3 separate regions of the Homo sapiens genome follow, and regions 2 and 3 are each linked to region 1. The links come from fine-mapping of genetic effects on gene expression. A gene starts in region 1. Each other region holds a variant in brackets. All regions are shown on one strand. Distances are between the middles of the regions.

Region 1 (8,177 bases):
GGCTGGTTTCGAACTCCTGACCTCAAGTGATCTGCCCGCCTCGGCCTCCCAAAGTGCTGGGATTACAGGCGTGAGCCACTGCGCCTGGCCGCGGCTGGCTAATTTTTTTCTAATTTTTGTAGAGATGGGGTCTCACCATGTTGTCCAGGCTGGTCTCCAACTCCTGGGCTCAAGCAATCGTCCTGCCTCAGCCTCCCAAAGTGCTGGGATTACAGGCGTGTACCACCACGCCTGGCCAGATTCTGTGTTTCTGACAATCCTCCTACTGATGCAGATGCCTGTACACTTCCTGGCTATCCTATCTGCCAGCTGTGTGGCCTCAGGAGGCCTCAGCATCTCCCTGGGCTTCAGTTCTTCCGCTGGATATTATTTAGATGAACAAACATATATTGACAGCTTACTACACGCCGGGCTGCTCTGGGTGCTTGCTAGAAAAACAAAGATGAAGAAGCCACAAGCCAAGCCCAGGCATGCCTCACAGACAGAGAACTTAAAGGTCCAACTACAATATTTAAAGACTCTGCGTTTGAAAATTTCATGACTCATTGGCAGAAATAGGACGACCGGATCTGCATCTCCCAGAAAACATCTCTCCAAACACTATGACAGGGATTCCCCGCTGACTACTGTCCTCAGAATCAGGGAATACGAAATCCAGAAGTAACCTCAAGAGAAATTTAGCCCAAACTCTATCTTGCCATTTTACAGAGAGGAGAAACTAGAGAACAGATGCAGAAAGAGTGGGGTCTGGAGGAAATTACTGGTTTTCCAGCTATGCTTTCGAAGGCTGTGATGTCCAACAGGAATAACATATGAGCTACAAAAAACTTAATATGTAATATTAAATTTTGTGGTAGTCACATTGAAAAGAGTAAAAAGAAGCCAGGCACAGTGACACATGCCTATAATCCTAGCACTGTGGGAGGCCAAGGCAAAAGGATTGCTTGAGGTCAGGAGTTTGAGACCAGCCTGGGGAACATAGTGAGACCTTGTCTCCACAAAAAAATTTTAAAAATTAGCTGGGCGTGGAGGTGCACGTCTACAGTCTCAGCTACTAGGGTGGCTGAGGCAGGAGAACTGTTTGACCCCAGGAGGTCGAGGCTGTAGTGAGCCAAGATGGCGCCACTACAGTCCAGCCTAGGTGACAGAGTGAGACCCAGTTTCCAAAAAAAAAAAAAGAGAAAGAATCGTTTCCATTGGTTAGCGCATCACTCCCAGGATCACTGGTTTCATTTTTATAGACACTGGATCAGAAAATTAATCTTTCAAGTACAGGTGTAGCTTTCTGTAGCCAAGTTGAATAGAATTACACTTCTGAGGCTGGGCACAGTGGCTCACGCCTGTAATCCTAGCACTTTGGGAGGCGAAGGCGGGCAAATCACGAGGTCAGAAGTTCAAGACCAGCCTGGCCAACATGGTGAAACCCCGTCTCTACTAAAAATACAAAATTAGCTAGGCGTGGTGGTATGCGCCTGTAATCCCAGCTACTTGGGAGGCTGAGGCAGGAGACTGCTTGAACCTGGGAGGTGGAGGTTGCCACCACTGCACTCCAGCCCGGGTGACAGTGCGAGACCCCACCTCAAAAGAAAAAAAAAAATGAATTATACTTCTGAGGCTGTGCACAGTGGCTCACCCCTATAATCCCGCAACTTTGGGAGGCTGAGGTGGGAGGACCACTCGAGACCAGCCTGGGCAACAGAGAGAGACCTTGTCTCTACAAAACATTAAAAAAGAAAAAAAATTTAGCCAAGTGTAGCTGTCCATGCCTGTGGTCTCAGCTACTTGGGAGGCTGAAGCGAGAGGATCGCTTGAGCAAGGAAGGTAGAGGCTGCAGTAAGCTGGGATCATACCATCACCCTTCAGCCTGGGTGCTGGAGGAGCAAGATTCTATCTAAAAAAATAAAAAAAAAAAAAAAAAAAAGAAAGAAAAAATCACACCTCACCCCTGGAAAAGAACTTAAGCGTAGCTGAATCTAACTTGCAATATGATTTTGCTGAAGATGAGGTTAAAGAGTGACGGCAGGCTGGCACTTGCAGCCACATTTCCAAAATTCTGGGTGTAAAATGCTCAGCACAGTGCCAGACACCTGTGCCTCAAAGTGTCAGAGAAATCTCAGCCACCTTCTTTCCCTTCCCCTCTCCCGGTTTTGCACCAAACCATCCTGTCCCTGGAGAATTTGCTCAATTAGAAGCGAGGTGAAATTCCAAGCACAGTTTGAAGGAGGAAGTGTCATTTTCAGCTTGCCTGTAGGTGCACCTCACTATGTAACATTTGTTACATAAGTGGCAGCATGACACGCCTAACTGATGAATGTCTGTTGCACACCCAATTCCAGCCGGGAGAGTCACGCAGGCTTTCCCTGGGAGAATAGTGGTGTGGAATTGAGGCATGGAGTTGCAAAAATTACTTTTGTCTTCTGACAAGTAGGGCCAGTTCCAGGGTGTTATACCCAAAGTGCTTTTCTACTGCAGCATAACCTCAAGAAAAACCAGTTTCAGGAGCACCACACCTAGGATCAGATGATGCAATATGATATTAGCGTCTCATTGCATCAGTGTGTCTGAGGCATGAGTCTTTTAAGCTGGCAAAAAGCATTATAAAGGGGCAGGAGAAAAAAGGAAAAGACTTGCAGACTGAAATCTAAAGGTACTGTCAGTGGTGTTCCTAATTGGCCACACAGGGTGTTTAGAGGATAAACACCCAGCCACCCGCCTCGGCTGACAAGCATCAGCATGCCATTTCCTGAAGGGGACTTGATGGCATATTTAGGCGAAATTCTTTTCTGGTTGGTTCTACTTATGCTTTATATCAAAGCGTCAAAGTTTAACCTCTAAAAAATCTTTTTAAATGCAGGTCTATTAAGAATAGGCTTTCAAAGGGTGCTTCTATTCCATCTTGACTTTTCTGAAAATCTCTGAAACGTACCAGTTGATTTCTCATTTCCAAAGTTCTTTTACATAAGCACTCTCAGCTCTCTTGACACACAGACTTTTGACTTTGATCAAATACCTTAGATTTGGGCCTCTTGGTTTCTCTGTCTTCCTTTACAGGACACTTGATGCTTCCCAGTCCTGTTTCTTGCACTAACAATGAATGAATGAATCACAAAAATCCTAGAACTTTATGCGTTTTCAAGAAGTTGCCTGAAGAAGGAACTTCCTTGTGCGGTACGCCTCAGGAAAAAAGAAGCAGGAGAAAAGCTTTGAGAGGAGAGCAAGTGACGGTGAGATCGTAATGGAAGTGGGGTGGAGAGGTGGAGGGTGGAGACCGGTAGGAAGCAAGCAAGGCTTTTTTCACCCGTCCCAGGACACGCGAACGAGATCAAGCCTCACTGCGGTTCACTAGGGTCTATGCAGGCCCTCGCACCCCTGCCTACCTCCTCAGAACCCAGCCTCTTGGCTCTTCTCACCCCAGCCCCACCAGACAGCTTCCCTCCCAGGAGGTGTCTCTCAAGATCTCGAAATGTGGAGCGTCCCGTTCACTCCACCTGGCCTGGAATACTTTTCCTGCCCCCTTTCATCGGGTCTTATTCATCCTTTAAGTTGTTCAGCATAACTTTCCACCTGAATGCCTTCCCTGGCCCTGGACTAGGATAAATCCCCTCGCCATAATGTTCCTACACAGGCATCACTTTGTAAAGCTTACCACTGTTGTAATTACTTGTTTACTGATCTGTCTTTCCGTTAGGCTGTGCGTTCCACTGGGGTGGAAACCTTGTTCACTGGCTCTGCAGCCCCGGGCACTGTGGGTCTTGCATGTACCGGGGGCTCAGTAAATATTTGGCAAAAAATGAAAAAGTTCCCCTCAAAGCCAGCTTCCAGTGCCTCCACGGCCCTCAAATTAATTATGAATTAATTCACTAATACAGCAAACCTTTATGTGATTCTTCCGTGTCACAGCACCTTGTTACATACTGAGGACACATCCACAGGCAAATAAAACTCAGCTTCTCTCTGCACAGGAAAAAATTATTCAAATTGTATTCATCTTTCATTCCAATCACTCAATTAGGGCACGTCCCTTGTTGGCTGCTGCGTGAGCGAAGTAACTATTTTCCAGCGAGTGTCCTCATGTGACCTGTCTAGACGTGCCCAGGAAAAACAATCCAACATCCTCCTAAGCCGCAAAGAAGTCCCTGACGCGCAGGCCGCACTGCGTGGAAGGCCCAAAGCGCGCTCGCGGGCCCGCGAAAGGCGCAGGAGCAGCGGAGCCGAGGCGGGCGGCGAGGCGCGCGGCGCGCGGCGCAGGCTCGGGTGGGCAGGGCAGGGCCAGGCCGGGCGGGGCGGGGGCGCCGGCAACGGGTCCGCCGGCCGGCAGGGGGCGCGCGCGCCCCGCGCCCCGCGCCTCCCGCCCCGCCGCGCGCTCGCTTGCCGCGCGGCCGCACATGTGTTTCTGTTTTGTGTTGTAGCATTTGTTCTGGAAGCTCGTATTTACATTTTAAGTGTATCTGGTGAGTGGGCTGGAGCCCTCGTCTGGGCCGGAAAAAAAAAAGCCCTCCGATCCGTCTTTTAGTTGCTTCTCTTCCTTTTTTCTCTCCGGTTTCTCATCACTCCAACCAGGTAGGGTCTGAAAATCGACAGTGATCAGTTTGTGGGGTCTGGGAAAGTTTTTTTTTTTTTCCTTTTTTTAAAGAGAAAAGGTTAAAAAAAAACCTGGGGGAGGGGGGCTGGGTGATTGAAGGAATAAAAAGAGGAAGGAAGGCGGATCCACGTGGTTTAATCGGAGACAGACAGAGATCCCATTGTTCAAAATCAATTAAAAAAAAAAAAAAAAGCAGACAGGGGAGAGCGCAGGGACGCCGGGGAGCTGGCGGCGGCCCTGGACACTTTGCAGTCGAATCGGAGACCGGCCGGGCCGCACGGCCGGCAAGGGGGCTGGGAGAGAGTTGGGCACCATTAAAGTTTTTATTTTTCGTGTCTGTGCGAGCAGGTGTTTGGGGCTGGGGTCCAGCTTTCTTCGGGCTCTTCCCCCGTCGCCGGGGGCAGTCCGCCGTAGGGATTCGGCTAACTAGAGCCCGAGGTCGGCACCCCTGAGCTGGGGCCGAACGGGGGTCCAGGGCTGATGCGGGGTGGGGGAGAGCGTTGCATTAAATGCCATGAGTGGGTTTGGGGGGAGACTGCGGAGACAAAAGCAGCAGGTGGGGTAGCCGGGGAGCAGGGGCTCCCTTACCACCCAGGTGCCAAGGGGGAATCCTGGAAGTGTCCCGAAGCCTTCTTTAATGAAAATCTAGGGGACTGGAGGCTGGTTTTACTTTCCCTTTACTTTTGGGGGGCGAGGTTGCAACTGTGATGCTTTGTGGGCAAACCTAACTTACGGATAGGCCGGGGGTCTCAATTCTCCCTCCAGGGGATTGCCTCTGGGGCTCCCGGCTGCCCTGCGGGATTCCCCGAAGGAGCCGCGCCGGGGCCAGGGAGGGGCGCGATTTCCTCTCCCAACTCGCCCCCTCTCCGCCCACCCTGCGGCCGCCACTTTGGGGAGGGCAGAGGAGGAAGTGGAGGCCGGGTGGCTCGTCTCCGCTCCCCTCCCCCCGCGCAGTTTATAACCCGTCCATTGTGCGCCGCTGCCCCGTGTCTCCCTCCAGCCGCGACCATGCCCAGGAAGAAGGCGGCGGCGGCGGCCTGGGAGGAGCCGAGCTCGGGCAACGGCACTGCCCGCGCCGGGCCCAGGAAACGCGGCGGCCCGGCGGGCAGGAAGCGCGAGCGGCCCGAGCGCTGCAGTAGCAGCAGCGGCGGCGGCAGCAGCGGCGACGAGGACGGCCTGGAGCTCGACGGGGCCCCCGGCGGGGGCAAGCGCGCGGCGCGGCCGGCGACAGCAGGCAAGGCGGGCGGCGCGGCCGTGGTCATCACCGAACCCGAGCACACCAAGGAGCGCGTCGTGAGTGAGGGTCAGGGTAGACGGGTGGGCGCAGGGCCGGGGCCGGCGGGCTCAGCGACGCGGCACGGCGCGCGTTCCAGCCGGGGGCCGCCTCGCGTCACGCTCCCTCCCGGCGGCCGGGCCGGCGCAGGCCGCGGGCTGAATCATTGCCTCCGCCTCCGCGCAACAAAAGGGCTCGGTACGGGGCGCGCGGCCCGCGGCCTACCCGACCCCGGGCACCGCGCGGGCGGTTGGCGGTTGGGGCGCGCGCCCGGGCCCGCGGCGGGGGAGGGGCGGCCGAAGCCCGCACGAGGGGGTCATGGCCCCGCCCCCACAGCTCCCTCTGCGCCCCTCCCCCCCCGCCCCGGGAAAGGGGACCTCGGTAAGTTCGCCCGGCCTGGAAGAGGGGGCGGCCAGCGGGCCCCACACGTCCGTGGCCGCCGCTGCGCCCGGGCGCCGCGGGGAGGGGGCGGCCGGCGCTCTGCGGGGAGCGGCCGTTTGCGCCGGGGCTTTGAGGTTCCCGCCGCCTCGGCTCCGGCGCCCGGGGGGGGCGGGGCCTGACGGCCGCCGCGCATGCTCCGCAGAGCCCTCCCCCGAGGTCGGGGAAGCCCCCCGGCTGAGCGGTGCTCGGGCTTTGTTTGCCGCCGGTGGTCCGAAGCTGCAGGATGCTCGCGAGGGCTCTGTTGTAGCCCCCCCAAGTGAAGAAGCATCTCCTAGGGTCCTGGGCGGGCTTCTGTTTTCTCAAATCTTAATTAAGGTCGTGGCTGACTCAAGTTAACGTTCCCGAAAAAGCCTGCAGAGCCGGAGATCTGAACCCGGCATCTGCCGCCACAGCATCTCCCCACCCCCACAGAACTTTCTTTAAGTTTGGTGTGGTGTGGGATATGTTTTTCAGAAGAGGGTCTAAGTTTTCACCAGATTCTCAGATAACCCCCAGAGAGCAAGAACTTCCACCTGGGGTGTAGAGCCTGACACCCGGAGAGGTTTTTTTCCTTCCATAAGTGCCCATCTCCTAAGGGTGTTTAAGGGTTAACAGCAGAGTGCTTTCCTCCAGAGAAGCGCAGGCAGTGTCTAATAACACATTTTCTACGTCCGTTTTATAGATAGGGAAACTGGGGCACAGAATTCGAGGGCCTTGTCCAAAGTCATGGATGGAACTGGATCTCCAAATGCTGTAACTCCTGATGTCCCTGCAAATTGCACATGGGAATATGCTTTGTAAAAGTGCCTTCTGGGTGAAAGGGTTAACATGTTAGGCAGTGGAGGAGAGCCCGTCAAAAGCTGTCAAAAGGTCTTGCCCGGGGTCTTGGATCAGGCTAGACTAGACAATGGCCAAAGTATTGAGAAACTGGAACACAGGAACTGTTTTCCTTTGACGTCTAGTCTGCTGTGCCAGACTCCAGACATTTGCCCTCCGAACACAGTATGTTAGGATGAAACTAAAAAGAAAGGCCAGGTGAGCTTCCGCGTCTCCTGTATCCTATTTTGAGTGAGTTTCCAAAAGCAAGATTGTGTTTAGACATCCAAGACTGCAGTTATCAGCTGTACAGCTCCAGACTGTTGGAACGCTGAATTTTGCCATCAGAGCAAAAGATCCTTACCCCATGCTGAGATTGACCCAAGGAGGTAGAGACAGGGAGTGTGTGAGGGACACTGGCTCTCCCTGGCCCACCTCTGTCTCCAGCTGTGCTGCTTGAAGCTGCTTTGTCAATGGAAATGGCACATTTGTTAGTCTTTTTTTTTTGAGGCAGAGTCTCCCTCTATGGCCAGGCTGGAGTGCAGTGGCACGATCTCAGCTCACTGCAACCTCCGCCTCTCAGGTTCAAGTGATTTTTGTGTGCTGATCAGCCTCTCGAGCAGCTGGGATTACAAGTGTGTTCCACCACACCCGAATAATTTTTGTACTTTTTGTAGAGGCTGGGTTTTACCATGTTGGCCAGGCTGGTCTCAAACTGCTGGCCTCAAGTGATCTGCCTGCCTCAGCCTCCTTCCAAAGTGCTGGGATGACAGGCGCGAGCCCTGTGTTGGGTTGCATGTTTGTAAGTCTTAATGTGAGTAAACAGCAGTCCATTGCAGCTTTTAAGTTCCTGTTTATACACATAAATACGTTATTATTTTACATATGTGTATAAGCAGGACTCTAAAAGCTACATCTTCCTTTCTCTATCCACTTAAAACCAACAGGGGCCCATGATGCCCATCCTTTGGGCTGTCGGTGCTGTTCTAGAATCAGAGCACCTGGGAGGCTGAGGGTTCAGCATATGATGCCCCTTTATGCCTCATGGAAAGTGCACACCCTACATTTAAGTTTTGCTTTTTTTTT
Region 2 (8,177 bases), 24 kb before region 1:
ACAAAGGGACACATGAATGGGTTCTTGTGTGCCAGGCAGGCTGCCTGAGAAGTGCATTACAGATATTACTTAATACTTAAAGCCAGGCATGGTGGCTGATGCCTGTAGTCTCATCAGTTTGGGAGGCTGAGGCGGGTGGATTGCTTGAGCTCAGGAGTTCGAGACTAGCCTGGGCAACATGAAGAAACCCCGTCTCTATTCTTGAAAAATTATTATTATTATTTACTATTATTATTATTATTATTATTTGAGATGGAGTCTCACTCTATTGCCCAGGCTGGAGTGCAGTGGCGGGATCTCAGCTCAGTGCAACCTCCACCTCCCGGGTTCAAGCAATTATCCTGCCTCAGCCTCCCAAGTAGCTGGGATTACAGGTGTGCACCACCACACCCAGCTAATTTTTGTATTTTTAGTAGAGACGGGATTTCACCATGTTGGCCAGGCTGATCTCGATCTTGCGTCTTCAGGTGATCCACCTGCCTCTGCCTCCCAAAGTGTTAGGATTACAGGCGTGAGCCACTGCACCTGGCAAAAATTTAAAAATAAAAAAAAAAATTATTTAATACTTAGAAGAAGACTGAGGTCAAGAATTTGTTATTCCCATTTTACAGAAGGGGAAAATAAGGCACAGAAGTTCAGTAGCTCAATGTAGCTCAGAAATGGGAGCCAGGGCCAGGTGCAGTGGCCCATGCCTATAATCCCAGCACTTTGGGAGGCCAAGGCAGGCAGATCATCTAAGGTCAGAAGTTCGAGACCAGCCTGGCCAACATGGCGAAACTCCATCTCTACTTAAAAATACAACAATTAGCTGGGCGTGGTGGTGCACACCTGTAGTCCCAGCTGCTTGGGAGGCTGAGGCATGAGAATTGCCTGAACCTTGGAGGCAGAGGTTGCAGTAAGTGGAGATCATGACACTGCACTCCAGGCTAAGTGACAGAGCAAGACTCTGTCCCAAAGAAAAAAAAAAAAAAGACTGGACTGGGCCCCTGAGTCAGGAACAGTGTGGGGAAGATTCCAGCAAGGCAGGGGATGACATCTTGAAGACGGGACAGCGCTCCCTACCCCTGTACCTGAGCAAATCCACTTTCCCTCCCGAATCCCACCCACCTGTTCTGGGCCCCGCCTCTCAGATTCCTCTGAAGGTTGACAGATACAATAGCCCAAAACATGCCACTTTGCAATGAGGATCCTGTTGAGCTGAAAGCAACTGAGAAGAAGCAGATAGAAGAAAAGCTCTCTCTGCCAGGGTCGGTGGCTCCCACCTGTAATCCCAGCACTTTGGGAGACCAAGGCGGGTGGATCACCTGAGGTCAGGAGTTTGAGACCAGCCTGACCAACATGGAGTAATCCCGTCTCTACTAAAAATACAAAATTAGCCGGGCGTGGTGGCACGTGCCTGTAATCCCAGCTACTCGAGAGGCTGAGGTAGGAGAATCGCTTGAACCCTGGAGGAGAAGGTTGCAGTGAGCCGAGATAGCACCATTGCACTCCAGCGTGGGCAACAAGAGCAAAACTCATCTCAAAAAAAAAAAAAAAAAGAAAGAAAGAAAGAAAAAGAAAGAAAAGCAGGCCAGGCGCAGTGGCTCATGATGTATGAGAGGCTTGGCCAGGGACAGTATAAGAACAGGCACAGGCCAGGTGTGGTGGCTCACGCCTGTAATCCCAGCACTTTGGGAGGCCGAGGCGGGTGGATCAGGAAGTCAGGAGTTAGAGACCCGCCTGGCCAACATGGTGAAAACCCATCTCTACTAAAAATACAAATATGTGCCGGGCGTGGTGGCACAGGTCTGTAATCCCAGCTACTCGGGAGGCTGAGGCAGGCGAACTGCTTGAACCCGAGAGGTGGAGGTTGCAGTGAGCTGAGATTGCACCATTGCACTCCAGCCTGGGCAACAAGAGCAAGATTCCGTCTCAAAAAAAAAAAAAAAAAAAAGAAGAAGAAAAGCTCTCTGCCCTTCCCGTAGCTGCCAAAAAGCAAGACATAAATTTATAAATGTGCCCACCCCGCAAAAAAAACCACCAGGAAGGACAAAAGTTGATCCCAGAGACACCTCCAGACCCTAAACTTCCTGGGGCCCAGAGGAGTAGACTTAACCGACTCCACTCCTAGCTCCCATCTTCCATTCATCCCCCATATATTGACCCTCTCACGATTTGCTGCCCTAGTGCTTTCCCTTCGTCTTTTCACTTCACTAAAATGTATTCTTCTTTTGTTAAGTTGCTACATAAACCCCAGTTCTAACCACCCTCTTGAGTCACTTACCTCTGAGTACTCCCATGTACAAGTGTCATAATCAACTTCTGTTTATTTTTCTCTTGCCAATCTGTCTTTTGTTAGTCTAATGAATAGGGTCCCAGCCAAAGAATCTAAGATGGGTACACGCCCTACCCACCTTCCTTCTCTCTTCCTCAAGATTCCGAGCGCTCACTGCTATTTAATCATCTCTACCTGTGCCTGTTCTCTTTTTTTTTTTTTTTTGAGATGGAGTTTTCTCTTGTTGCCCATTTTTGAGTGCAGTGTTGTGATCTCAGCTCACTGCAACCTCCACCTCCCAGGTTCAAGCGATTCTCCTGCCTCAGCCTCCCAAGTAGCTGGGATTACAGGTGCACACCACCATCCCCAGCTAATTTTTGTATTTTTAGTAGAGACAGGGTTTCACCATGTTGGCCAAGCTGGTCTTGAACTCCTGACCTCGGGTGATCCACCCACCTTGGCTTCCCAAAGTGCTGGGATGACAGGCGTGAGCCACCGCACCTGGCCTGTGCCTGTTCTTATACTGTCCCTGGCCAAGCCTCTCATACTCCACCATAGTTTCCTCATCTGTGAAACGGGGATTTCAGGAGTACCCACTTCCTGGGCACATATGTGAGGCATGAGGACTAAACTCTGATTTTTTGTTTTTGTTTTTTTTGAGACGTTGTCTGGCTCTGTCGCCCAGGCTGGAGTGCAGTGGCACAATCTCAGCTCACTGCAAGCTCCACCTCCTGGGTTCACACCATTCTCCTGCTTCAGCCTCCCGAGTAGCTGGGATTACAGGTGCCCGCCACCACGCCCGGCTAATTTTTTGTATTTTTAGTAGAGACGGGGTTTCACCATGTTAGCCAGGATGGTCTCGATCTCCTGACCTCGTGATCTGCTTGCCTCGGCCTCCCAAAGTGCTGGGATTACAGGCGTGAGCCACCGCGCCCGGCCTAAACTCTGATTTTTATCTTGCCCAAATTCCTATCTAAGGGGTCTGGGGAGCCATGCCCTACAAATCATAAATTCTCTTCAGATGGGTTTTATTTAACCCTAGGTATTGTGACTGACTTTCCAACCTGACTGACTCTGGCATAACATTATGAGACAAGGAAGAACATCAAAATATTTTACCCCAAAACATGTTTCTTTGTCATATTTTGAAATGTCCCTACAAAGCTGTTCCTTGCTAGGGAAAATTTGCATCTGTAAAGAATCTCTATTAACATAGCTAGATCTTTTTCTTCCAGAACCTCACAATCCTATAGAGATTAACTAAGATCTGAATAGGAAACATTTGCCATTTATTGTCTCTAAAAGCAGCCACTATAAGACTTCAAAAGAACTTTGGTGTCCACAATATTTATCTTTTTTTTTTTTTTTCCTGAGATGGAGGTTTGCTCTTGCTGCCCAGGCTGGAGTGCAATGGCATCATCTCGGCTCACCGCAACCTCCACCTCC[C/T]GAGTTCAAGCGATTCTCCTGCCTCAGCCTCCCGAGTAGCTGGGATTACAGGCATGTAACACCACACCCGGCTAATTTTGTATTTTTATAGAGACAGGGTTTCTCCATGTTGGCCAGGCTGGTCTCAAACTCCTGACCTCAGGTGATCTGCCTGCCTTGGCCTCCCAAAGTGCTGGGATTGGGCCACTGTGCCTGGGCTCACAGTATTTATCTTATCCTGAACATTCCCTTTCTATGAATCCCAGGTCTTTGGACAAATTCAACCAATTGTCAACCAGAAAGTGTTTAAATTCACCTATAGCCTGGAAGCAACCCCGCCCTGCTTCGAGTTGTCCTAACTTTCTAGACCAAGCCAATGTAGTTCTTAAGTGTATTTAATTGGTGTCTCATGTCTCTCAAAAATGTATAAAAACAACTTGCACTCCAGCCACCTTGGGCACACATCTCAGGACCTCCTGAGGGCTTTTGTCACGGGCCATGGTCACTCATATTTGGCTCAGAATAAATCTCTTCAAATATTTTACAGGGTCTGACTCTTTGTTGGCATGCATATATAAAGAAGTTTGTCGGGCGCTGTGGCTCACGCCTGTAATCCCAGCACTTTGAAAGGCCGAGGTGGGTAGATCACCTGAGGTCAGGAGTTTGAGACCAGCCTGGCCAACATGGTGAAACCCTATCTCTACTAAGAATACAAAAATTAGCCAGGTGTGGTGCCACGTACCCGTAATCCCAGCTACTCGGAGGCTGAGAGAGGAGACTGGCTTGAACCCAGGAGGCAGAGGTTGCCAGTGAGCCTAGATCACACCACTGTACTCCAGCCTGGGTGACAGAATGAAACTCCATCTCAAAACAAACAAACAAACAAAGTTAAAGTTAAGATATGCAAAAGGGGGCCTGGCATGGGGCTGACATCTGTATTCCTAGCACTTTGGGAAGCCAAGGTGCGAGAATTGCTTGAGCCCAGGAGTTCAAGACCAACCTGGGCAACAAGGTGAAACCTCGTCTCTACAAAAATGTGTAAAAATTAGGTGTGGTGGCGTGTGCCTGTGATTCCAACTACTGAGCCAGGAGGCCAGGAGGTCAAGGCTGCAGTAAGCCATGATTGCAACACTGTACTCCAGCCTGGGTGACAGAAGGAGACGCTGTCTCAAAAGAAAAATCACAACAAACCCTTCTTCCTTTCATGCGTTCAATAAAGATATGCTGAGTGTACTTATCTACAGGGTGGTTTGTGTTAGAAATTTTATTTATTTATTTATTTATTTAGAGCCTCACTCTGTAGCCCAGGCTGGAGTGCAGTGGTGCAATCTCGGCTCATTGCAACCTCTGCCTTCTGGGTTCAAGTGATTCTCCCACCTTAGCCTCCTGGGTAGTTGGAGTTGTAGGCGCCCGCTACCACGCCTGGCTAATTTTTTTTTTTTTTTTGAGACAGAGTGTCGCTCTGTTGCCCAGGCTAGAGTGCAGTGGCGCGATCTTGGCTCACTGCAACCTCCGCCTCCCGGGTTCACGCCATTCTCCTGCCTCAGCCTCCCGAGTAGCTGGGACTACAGGCACCCGCCACCACACCCAGCTAATTTTTGGTATTTTTAGTAGAGTCAGGGTTTCACCGTGTTAGCCAGGATGGTCTCGATCTCCTGACCTCGTGATCCGCCCACCTCGGCCTCCCAAAGTGCTGTGATTACAGGCGTGAGCCACTGCCCCCGGCCCACGCCTGGCTAATTTTTGTATTTTTAGTAGAGATGGGCTCTCACCATGTTGGCCAGACTGCTCTCGAACTCGTGACCTCAAGTGATCTGCTGCCTCGGCCTCCCAAAGTGCTGGAATTAAAAGCATGAACCACCGCACCTGGACAGGTGTTAGGAATTTTAAATGCAACACTGATGTCAGGACCTGAGAGGGTCCTGCTGTGCACTGCTTTAGACAGGTAGGAAGCACCACCTGCTCTTTGGGTGTGCAATTTGCATCAAGAGTCTTAAAAATAGTCATGTCCGTGGCCGAGCGTAGTGGCTCACACCTGTAATCCCACCACTTTGGGAGGCCGAGGTGGGCTGATCACGAGGTCAGGAGTTCGAGACCAGCCTGGCCAATATGGTGAAACCCCATCTCTACCAAAGATACAAAAAATTAGCCGAGCGTGGTGGTGTGCGCCTGTAATCCCAGCTACTCCGGAGGCTGAGGCAGGAGAATCGCTTGAACTTGGGAGGTGGAGGTTGCAGTGAGCCGAGATGGTGCCACTGAACTCCAGGCTGGGCGACAGGGCAAGACGCCATCTTAAAATAAATAAATAAATAAAATTTAAAAAGTCACGCCCTTTACCCCAGAAATTCTACTTTGGGGAATCTAGCCTGAAAAAAAAAATACTAACTACTGAAAAGTCCTGTGATTTGTTTAGTCATCGATTCAGACTTTTCTTTCTTTCATTTTTTTTTTTTTTTTGAGATGGAGTCTCACTCTGTCGCCCAGGCTGGAGTGCAGTGGCACGATCTTGGCTTGCTGCAAGCTCCATCTCCCAGGCTCACGCCATTCTCCTGCCTCAGCCTCCGGGGTAGCTGGGACTACAGGCGCCCGCCACCATGCCTGGAGAATTTTTTGTATTTTTAGTGGAGACGGGGTTTCACCGTGTTAGCCAGGATGGTCTCAATCTCCCGACCTCGTGATCCACCCGCCTCAGCCTCCCAAAGTGCTCGGATTACAGGCATGAGCCACTGCGCCTGGCCTTCTTTCTCTTTCTTTCTTTCTTTTTTTTTTTTTTTTTTTTGAGATGGAGTCTCACTCTGTTGTCACCCAGGCTGGAGTGCAGTGGCGCGATCTCGGCTCACTGCAATCTCCACCTCCAGGGTTCAAGCGACTCTCCTGCCTCAGCTTCCTGAGTAGCTGGGATTATAGGCACCTGCCACCACGCCCAGCTAATTTTTGTATTTTTAGTAGAGACGGGGTTTCACCATGCTGACCAGGCTGGTCTGGAACTCCCGACCTCAGGCGATCCGGCGTGAGCCACCGCGCCCCGCCCAGAAATGGTTTTTAACACACACATGAAATGGTTTGGAAAGGAGCCTTTCTCTAATGCAAGGTGTGGCAAGGATTCACGGCCAGGTTGAATGAGGTCTGTATTTCAGGTTGAGGTTTCTGCTTTGAGGCACTCCCGAGGACTTGAAGGTTTTTCTTTTTTCTCCGAACAGAGTTGCTTGGCTGAAGAGCTCCGATGTCCCCTCCCTAGCGTACATGCCTGTCACCTGCCACCCTGGAGGAGCCCTGGGAAGCCAGCATCTTGCATGTGGGGATTTTGCCTGAAGCATCCTCCTTGGCCCCTGGCATGGCCAGGCTGGCATCTGGAGAGTCCGGGCTGCCTAGCTGAGGGTCATGCCAGGAAAAGCAGGTTTGAACTTGGTGGATGATCAGAGGCTCCTCCTCCCACTCACTATCACGCCACTGCCTGCACATCCTTCAGATGCCAGGCGCCGGAGCACCCTGCACTGAGCTGGGCAGGAGGAAGGCGGTGGCTCTGAGGAATCCAATTGGGATGCAGAGAAGGAGGCAACTCCGGAACCCACCCTCTGGATGGCGGAGGACTCCAGGGAGTGAATCACACCCAGAGAACTTGGGTTTCACTGGGTCCTTAGAGGAAGATGTGACACAGCGAAGGGAAGGGCATAGGCTCTGGGATTCCACAAGCCTGGGTTGAATCCAGCTCTGCCGCTTTCCCGTGTGTCACTTCTGGGAACTTAGGTCATCTCTCTGAGCACGTATAAAATAGCAATGGTAAAAACAGGCCGGGCAGAGTGGCTCACACCTATCAGCCCAGCACTTTGGGAGGCCGAGGCGGGTGGATCACCTGAGGTCAGGAGTTCAAGACCAGCCTGGTCAACATGGTGAAACCCCATCTCTACTAAAAATACAAAAAGTAGCTGGGCGTGGTGGCGCACACCTGTGGTCCCAGCTACTGGGGAGGCTGAGGCAGGAGAATCTCTTGAACCTGGGAGGTGGAGGTTGCAGTGAGCTGAGATCGCACCATTGCACTCCAGCCTGGGCGACAGAGCGAGACTGTCTCGGAAAAATAAAAATTAGCCAGGCATGGTGACCCACGCCTGTAATCCCAGCAACTTGGGAGGCTGAGGCAGGAGAATAGTGTGAACCCGGGAGGCAGAGGTTGCCGTGAGCCGAGATTACGCCATTGCACTCCAGCCTCCAGCCTGGGAGACAAGAGTGAAACTCCACCTCAAAAAAAAAAAAAAAAGCTATGATAACAATAATAATACCTGCCCCAAGGTATTATACCCATTACCCAGACTTGGCTGTTATGAAGATTTCATGACATTGTAATTTATGAAGCATGTGATAGGGAATCAAAACTTTTTTTTTTCTTTCTGAGATGGAGTCTTGCTCAGTTGCCCAGGCTAGAGTGCAGCGGCGTGATCTCAGCTCACTGCAATCTCTTCCTCTCGGATTCAAGTGATTCTCCTACCTCAGCCTCCCGAAT
Region 3 (8,152 bases), 55 kb after region 1:
CCCACCGGAGCATCCTAGTCTGAGGACCCATCTATTATGGGGACATACCGGGTCTTGAGACTCCTCCACCAGGGACACAGAGTAGGAGATGAGGCCTGAGAATTCGGCAGATGGGAATGCTATAGCTTCAACGTAGAAAGTCTCCTTCAAGTGGTTCCCGAGGAGGGCCAAGGTATAGGCGTGCTGGTCGGGCCCCAGCACCAACTCAAAGGTACTGGAGTTGTCTTCTAGGAGAGAAAGAAGGGATGGACCAGCCACTGAAGTAACCTGGTGCCGGTCACATTTGATGGTCAAGGTACCAGCTCATTCCTCATATCAGATGCAAGGCTGTGAGTTCCAGGAGGGCTGGAGCTGAAATGGCTCAGCCATCCCCGTTTCTAGCATTCAGGTCTTGGTAGACAACCAGATGTTCATACACAAGCAATGGCCAGTTATTCACCAGTATTCCTTGAAGACCTATTACATGCCAGGAGTTGGAGCTCAGGTGATGATGCCTTCAAGGCTCCTGACTGGTGTGAAGCCTCAGGGTAGGTGGTTCTACATTTTGGCCCATGAATCCAACTCCTGCGATAATATCAGAGTCCTAAAGGTGAGAAACTGTCCCAGGCTGGGCTCAGCAGCCTCATCTGAAAAAAATCACTTACTGATGCTAGAAAGGTCAGTGAGAACCATTTATTGGATGGATTATGCCTCCATCAAGTTTTCTGAAGAAACCAAGTGTTCTTATGATTATACATGTTAAGCCTGTCTCCTAGTTTTAGGTCATTAAATACAAAACCATGCACAGAAGAGATCAGAAGGAAGTTGACCACACGTGGTGGTTGTCCGTTTGCTAATTAGATCCTAAAGGTGTTTTTGAGAGGGAGTCTTGCTCTGTCGCCCAGGCTGGAGTGTAGTGGCGTGATCTCAGCTCACTGTAAGCTTTGCCTCCTGGATTCTGGCCATTCTGCCTCAGCTTCCTGAGTAGCTGGAACTGCAGGCACCTACCACCACACGCCTGGCTAATTTTTTGTATTTTTAGTAGAGACGGGATTTCACCGTCTCGTTAGACAGGATGGTCTTGATCTCCTGACCTCGTGATCTGCCTACCTCGGACCTCCCAAAGTGCTGGGATTACAGGTGTGAGCTACCACGCCTGGCCCCCCCCCCTCCTTTTCTTTTTTGAGGTGGAGTCCTGCTCTGTTGAGCAGGCTAGAGTGTAGCGGCACTATCTCGGCTCACTTCAACCTCCATCTCCTGGGTTCAAGCAATTCTTGTACCTCAGCTTCCTGAGTAGCTAGGACTATAGGTGTGCACCACCATGCCCGGCTAGTTTTTTGTATTTTTAGTAGAGATGGGGTTTTACCACATTGCCCAGGCCAGTCTCCAACTCCTGAGCTCAGGCAATCCATCTGCCTCAGCCTCCCAAAGTGCTAGGATTACAGTCGTGAGCCACTGTGCCCAGCCCAAGTCCATTCATTTTCTAGGTCAGAAATGACCCTGACTTCTCCCACCTGGGTCACTCGAACTTCCTCTTTCCTGGCCTGTCCTCTATCTGTGCCCGATGTGGCAGCTGTAGGCCTGATGGCTGTTCCTGCTCAAGATTCCAGGTGACTTATTTCAGGGGATCCTAAGCTAGATTTACCTTGGCCACTAGAACCCCAAGAGATCCAGGAACTGTAGCATCCTCAGACCTTCTGCACGGCACTGCCAGCTGCCTCCATCTCCAGCTCCTCCAACGTGCCAGCAGATGGCTGCAGCTGCGGCCGTGGCTGCCCCTGGTTAGGCACTGCCCTGGGTCCTCGGCCTCTTGCTCTGGGTTAGAGCCCCAGCAGCCCTCCCGATGGACTCTGCAGTTCTGCAGCAGCCCCTCCTTGGAGGCCCTGGGGATGCTGGTTACAGGCCCAGCCTCAGTCCTGCTGCTGGCTGTGAGGGAACTGGGCCCACCGGGACCACTCCTGTGCTAGTTCCTGCTTCTCATCTACCTAGATGCTTCACCAGCCCTGAGCCAGGCCTCATGGGGCAAGACCAGACAAGGCAGTCTTCCCCCAGGAACCCCTGCAACTTCCCAGTGCAGACACAGCCCTCTTGACCTGCGATAGCATCAGCAGGCCCACGGCATGCAGCCCAAGAGGTGCCACACACCTAGGGCCTGCTCCTGTTCTGGGGACCTGGGCTCCCTGTGGCCATTCCACCCAAGGGTGATTCACCACCAGGCAGTGAGGGCGAGAGGGTCACAGTCTGTTTGCCACAATCCCCTACTGGCTGGCTCTCCTGTGGTTGACCTTCTGGGGGCCCCTCTCACAGATAGTTTGTTGTGAAGCATAGCTAACATTTCACTGTGGGCTATCTTTGCTAGGAGCTGTGGTAGGTGTTTCAGGCTCATGGGCTCACATCCTCAGGACCCTTTGAAGCAGGCATTTGTTGTCCCCATTAAACAGAAGCATGGGGGAGGCCAGAAGCCCTGCGACCCAAGTACACACAATAGCTGCCTCTACCTGGAAGGCCCTCCCTGCCCTCAGTCCTCACAGAGCTGCCCAGGAGGCCTTAGCTACCTCAAACTCTCCCTACCCACCCTGGGGGCATATTAAAGGGCTCCCTCCAGCCTCTGCTGGGTCCTCGACTGTCTGTCCATCTGTCGTAGCAGGCTCTGAGAGCAGGTAACATGGTTTATTCTTCCAGAGCTGGATCCTCAGGGCACAGAGCAAATACTGATGATTTGAGCTGAGCTTTTTCCTACCTGCCATGTACTGCTGGACTTACAGGAAGGTGGGTACCCTTCTTGGTTCTTCACTGGCACTTCTCGGCCATTTCTCTATTCCTCAAGAATCCCAGTTCCTGTGAAGTGCTGGCCATCAGATAATGCCAGCTACCCCTTTCTTTTGGGGACGACGATGTCATCCTCTCCATCCTTCGTGGATTGTTCTAGCATACTTGCCCTCCACTGCTGTTGTGTCACTGGTATCTGACAATAGACTAGAACATCTAGACATTTTGATCTCTCTTCGACGACCTTATTTCAATGAACCTGGGTTCTATACCACCTTAGACATCCATTACAATGATCATAACCCAGACTAGATGCCACCTCCAAGGCAGACAATGCCTTCCGATCTGTTTCGCTCACCTATGCTCCCACCCCAGCGAGTCCCCAACCTCAGTCCCAGATCCTCCTACCGATCCCCACCCTCCATCCTCACACTTCCCTTTGACCCTTCTCAGAGCCCAAAAACCCATCACTACATCCTCTCTTATACACACTGTCCACTCCCACACCTTTTTCTAGTTTGCTTTCCTGGAAAACCTCCATTCTGGTCACACCAGGTCTTTAAAGCTCACTCTTGCACCTGAGATGCTGGAGAAAACCATCACACCAAAAGGCCTCATTTCAGGCTACGACCAGACCTCAGAGCAAGCCACCAACACTACTCAAACACTATCGTCTCATTCCTGTCCACAGACTCACCTGTATTCCATAGTCCTAAAGGTGATCCTCCTGCCTTGGCCTCCCAAAGTGCTGGGATTACAGGTGTGAGCCACCACGCCCAGCCTGTTTAGAACCTTGTCTTCTGGCTTTCTATTCCTCTGCAAACTTCTCAGATCTTCCTCTAGGATCCATTTCCCCACCCCTGTTGGATCAGTTCCATCTATACATCTGCCCGTGTACTACCAGCTTCAGACACGCTCGACTGCGTGCTGGCCCCTGTAATTACCACCACACATCTCCCTTTACGGAGAGAGAATTCTTTCTGTGGCCTAGATTTACTGTGCCTCCCCATTTCAACCTGGCTTTTCACTGTTATTATCAGGGTCACTGATGACTGCCATTCTGAGGATTGTGACTTTACTATGGGCTTGGGCATCTTAGTCTATCCCACAGCATTTGCCAGGGTTGGCCACTGCCTTACTTTGCCCAGACTGGAGTGCAGTGGTGCAATGTCGGCTCACTGCAGCCTCTGCCTCCCGGGTTCACATGATCCTCCCGCCTCAGTCTCCTGAGTAGCTAGGATTACAAGCTAAAGCCACCACACCTAGCTAATTTTGGTATTTTTAGCAGATGGTTTTAACCATGTTGGCCAGGCTGGTCTCAAACTCCTGACCTCAAAAGTGATCCACCAGTCTTGGTCTACTCAAAGTGCTGGGATTAAGGCATGAACCACCACGCCTGGCCAGGCTTCTTTATAAAAATAATCTTATCTCAGAGTCAAGGTCTCACTGTGTTGCCAAGGCTGGTCTTGAACTCCTGTGCCCAAGTAAGCCTCCTGCCTTGGCCTCCCAAAGTGCTGGGATTACAGGTGTGAGCCAACACACCCAGCCTGTTTCTAGAACCCTGTATTCTGGCTTTCTATTCCTCTGTAAACTTTTCAGACTCTTTTGCTGTATCTTTTTGTGGTTCAAGCTTTAGCATGTTTCAGAGTCACCTGGAAGGCTTGTTAAAACATAACATGCTGTGTTGCCCTACCCTGATTTTTAAGTTTTTTTTTTTGAGACA[G/C]AGTCCCACTCTGTCACCTAGGCTGGAGTGCAGTGGTGCAACGTCGGCTCACTGCAGCCTCTGCCTCCCAGGTTCACTCCTGCCTTGGTCTCCTGAGTAGTTGGGATTATAGGTATATGCCACAAAGCCCAGCTAGCTTTTGTATTTTTTAGTAGAGATGTGGTTTTGCCATGTTGGCCGGGCTGGTCTCGAACTCCTGACCTCAGGTGATCCGCCTGCCTTGGCCTCCCGAAGTGTTGGGATTATAGGCATAAGCCCCGTGCTCAGCCCCTAGATTGTTGAATAAGTTTTTTTAAAAAAATTATTTTTTTGAGTCTCACTCAGGCTGGAGTACAGTGGCATGATCTCGGCTCACTGCAACCTCTGCCTTTCGGGTTCAAGCAATTCTCCTGCCTCAGCCTCCTGAGTAGCTGGCGGGCATGCCCGCCACCATGCCAATTTTTGTATTTTTAGTAGAGACAGGGTTTCGCCATGTTGGCCAGGCTGTTCTCGAACTCCTGACCTCAGGTGATCCATCTGCCTCAGCCTCCCAAAATGTTGGGATTAGAGGCATGAGCCACCACGCCCAGCCTGAATAAGCTTTTTCAATAAAGAAACCGGTAGTTCGCTATGATCCACATGATGAAGTATGGCATCCTTAGCAAGCTACATGAACCGGCGGACTCCAAGGCCTGCCTGGCCTAATCCACCTACTTCAGCACTGGTAGCCTCCCAGGGCCAGAGTAGCCCTTGTGGCCTGAACCAGACCTAGACCCCTGGGTTTCTTCGGCTCACTCTAGCTCATGTGTAAGATGGCCACGTCCAAGCTGGGCTACCTTTTCTGGCTAATCCCAGGCTACTTTGAAATCCAGCTGAGATCTATGGTCTGCAGAAGAGATGGAGTAGGAGACTGAGCCAAGGCCCCAGAGTGTAGACCAGGAAGTGGCAGGGGCACACTCTCCAATGCTGGCAACAAAGATGGTGCCCTCTGAGAAGAGGCACAGTATAGACCACAGAGCTCCCTGCGTTGCGTAGCTGAAGCTAAGCATGGTTTACAAGACAAGGTGGCAGGTTGGGCCGGGTGCAGTAGCTCACACCTGTAATCCCAGCACTTTGGGAAGCCAAGGCAGGAGGATTGTTTGCATCCGGGAGTTTGAAACCAGTCTGGGCAAAGTGAGACCCCGTCTCTACAAGAAAAGCAAATTAGCCAGTTGTGGCACACACCTGTCATACCAGCTCCTTGGGAGTGTGAGGTAGGAGGACTGCTTGAGTCCAGGAAGCTGAGTCTAGTCTACAGTGAGCTGTGATCACACTACTGCACTCCAGCCTGGGTGACAGAGCTAGACCTTGACTCAAAGGGGAAAAACAAAACAAAACCCAAAGAAAGCATGCTGGCATGTCCGTCCAGAAGCAGAGCTAGCTCTCAATGAGAGATTTAGAGGTACGCCAAGTCCTGAGCCAGTTCAGGGAAGTCAAAAGATGTGCAAGGCTGTTTTGCTGGAGTTGGGCATGTGTACCTCCTAACCAGCCCTCCATCTATAGAATAGAGTATGCTACCTGCCTCCCAGGAGAGGAGGGCTGAAGATGGGTGGTGGATGGCGTGGTGGCTGGGATGCAGGTGCTACCGTGGCTGCCGCTCTAGAGGTTTTGGCCTCAGATTTCTGGAAATTTAACATAGTGGATCATTGGTTTAGAGTGAAGATGGATTCTCCTGAGAGGAGTCACTGGGAGATGTGATCTACTCTGTGTAAGGCAATAGCTACTGTTTCAGTGGATATGTCTCTCTTCTCTTCTAGCCTGCAGGGAAGGCACAGCTACCCCCATTTTACAAGTGGAGAAAGTGGCTTAGAGGTGCAATAACTCACCCATGTGTACAGATTTAGCCTATGGGGAAGGTGGCAGCCAGAGAATCCTGGAAACACAAGTACAGCCACAACAGCCTCTCATCTGCAGCTCTAGGTCTCCAGCAGGCTTCTGCTGGGGACCTTGCTGGGAGGAGGTGTGGGCACAACTTGCCTGGCACGTCGAGAGCAGGCAAAGCTGGAGCTGGCACAAGAACACTCACTTTGGGGCCAGTAGACTCTCGCCTTCTTCGACTCTTCCTTGGAGGTATGGAGGACTAGCCGATATTTCTTTAAGATACAGCTGGGGCCTTGGACATTCAGAGTCATCTGGGACAGATTCGTTATTTCTGGGCAAAAGACAAAGCAAAGGTTAAGGAATGTCTGGAGGCCAGCACTCTGGGGGTGGAGGGAAGAGCAGTAGAGAGGGGCCGGGAGTTTGAACAGAGCACCAAGGACCCCCTGCCTTTTGCTAGGGCCCAGGCCCGAAGAATTACCATTTCACTGCTTGTTCTAGGTGGCTACAGGCAAGCTGCAAACCTCAGGGCCTCCTTTTGAGGGAGGATGGGATTTATCCCATGGTCCCCCACAAACAGAACAGGGCCTACCTCGATCAGTTCAGTGAAGGTTCACCTTGTTTCCAGTCTTGTTTCCAGTCTCAGTAGGAAACAAGACATTCCATTCTACTGCTAAGACCCAGAACCCTGGTCCCAACCGCAAGTCAGGATCCAAGGCGAATTTTACCCAAGACAGTCCAAGGTTCCTGGCCCAGACTATGAGAGGCTTTTTAGAAAGCAGCGCATATACCCCTATTGTCTTCATTTAGTCTTGTCAACCAACTGATATAGTTGGGAGGCCAACTGCATCATCCCCATTTTACAAATAGGGAAACAAGATCAGGGAAGTTAGTGTGCTCAAGTTCACAGCTAGGAAACAAGTAACCACCCATGCTCTTTGCATGGGGCTATGTGACTTCTCTTACCCAATTATACATCTACAACTCAGGACAAAAGGTTTGATCAGCCCAGGCATGGGGACTGGGGAAGAGGGTGTCGGGGGTGGGGTGGAGAAAATTAGTCTGGAATCCATTTGCTGAGAAGCAGGGCAGCAAAGAGACCAAGAAGGAAAGGCAGAGACAGTCTGAGGTCCTACCCTCTGAAAAGATCACTTTCTTGGTTTTCTTGTCCTCAAGTTGCTGGCCCACATCAGCAGGGTTGCAATTCACAAGCAGGATGGCACCCCAACCGCTGGGACCCCAGATCCATTTTTTCTGCAAATGAGATGGGAACATTGGCTCAGGAAGGAGCCAAATAAATCTTCTGTTTCTCGGATGCACCTCATAGCAGAGGGGCCCAGCCAAGCCTTTCTCCAGGGTACAGGGACCCATGGAACAGGACTGGTGAGGTCAAGAATCTGTAGGCACAGGAAGGTCATGTCAGGTAAGGAGGCTAAGAGGAAGGGAAAGAAGCTAGGTTCGGGGTTACCAGTTACTTACCTCATATTTCAGAGTCAGAGAATCAGGGACCGAGGCAAATTGGAAAAGAGACGTGCCACCTGGCAGCAGCGGCTAATCCTCTCATCTAGGAGACTCCACAACCAGGGTAGGACATGAGCCTAGAGTTGCCAGACATTCTGGTTTTTTTTTTAGTGAGCTAGAAATTTAATCAGTTCTGATCCCAGTACTTCGGGAGGCCGAGGCAGGTGGACCACTGGAGATCAGGATTTCGAGACCATCCTGGCTAACACAGTGAAACCTCGTCTCTACTAAAAATACAAAAAAAACTAGCCAGGCATGGTGGCAGGCACCTAGAGTCCCAGCTACTCGGCAGGCTGAGGCAGGAGAATGGCGTGAACCTGGGAG

The links. PIP is the estimated chance that this variant, and not a neighbour inherited with it, causes the effect. A credible set is the group of variants that fine-mapping cannot tell apart.
Region 2: its variant is the best candidate, but not a certain one, in a credible set for the expression of RCC2 in whole blood (INTERVAL, PIP 0.58).
Region 3: its variant is the best candidate, but not a certain one, in a credible set for the expression of RCC2 in whole blood (TOPMed, PIP 0.89).

The regions. Positions count from the first base shown.
Region 1 is chr1:17,435,928-17,444,104 of GRCh38, reverse strand. RCC2 (regulator of chromosome condensation 2) reads left to right here and starts at 4,428. Exons shown (of 13, transcript NM_018715.4): 1 at 4,428-4,560; 2 at 5,583-5,875. The coding sequence starts at 5,591. LOC124903862 (a long non-coding RNA gene) reads left to right here and starts at 2,562. Exons shown (of 2, transcript XR_007065508.1): 1 at 2,562-2,647; 2 at 3,052-3,969. RefSeq lists silencers at 4,189-4,328, 5,648-5,747.
Region 2 is chr1:17,459,487-17,467,663 of GRCh38, reverse strand. No RefSeq gene overlaps it. Among named protein-coding and RNA genes, the nearest start is that of RCC2, 24 kb to the right of the region's middle. RefSeq lists an enhancer at 6,740-7,547. The variant C/T (reference allele first, on the strand shown) is at 3,701.
Region 3 is chr1:17,380,456-17,388,607 of GRCh38, reverse strand. It overlaps PADI6 (peptidyl arginine deiminase 6), which reads right to left. Exons shown (of 16, transcript NM_207421.4): 5 at 7,444-7,561; 6 at 6,516-6,641; 7 at 49-227. Among named protein-coding and RNA genes, the nearest start is that of PADI6, 12 kb to the right of the region's middle. RefSeq lists an enhancer at 6,143-7,342. The variant G/C (reference allele first, on the strand shown) is at 4,472.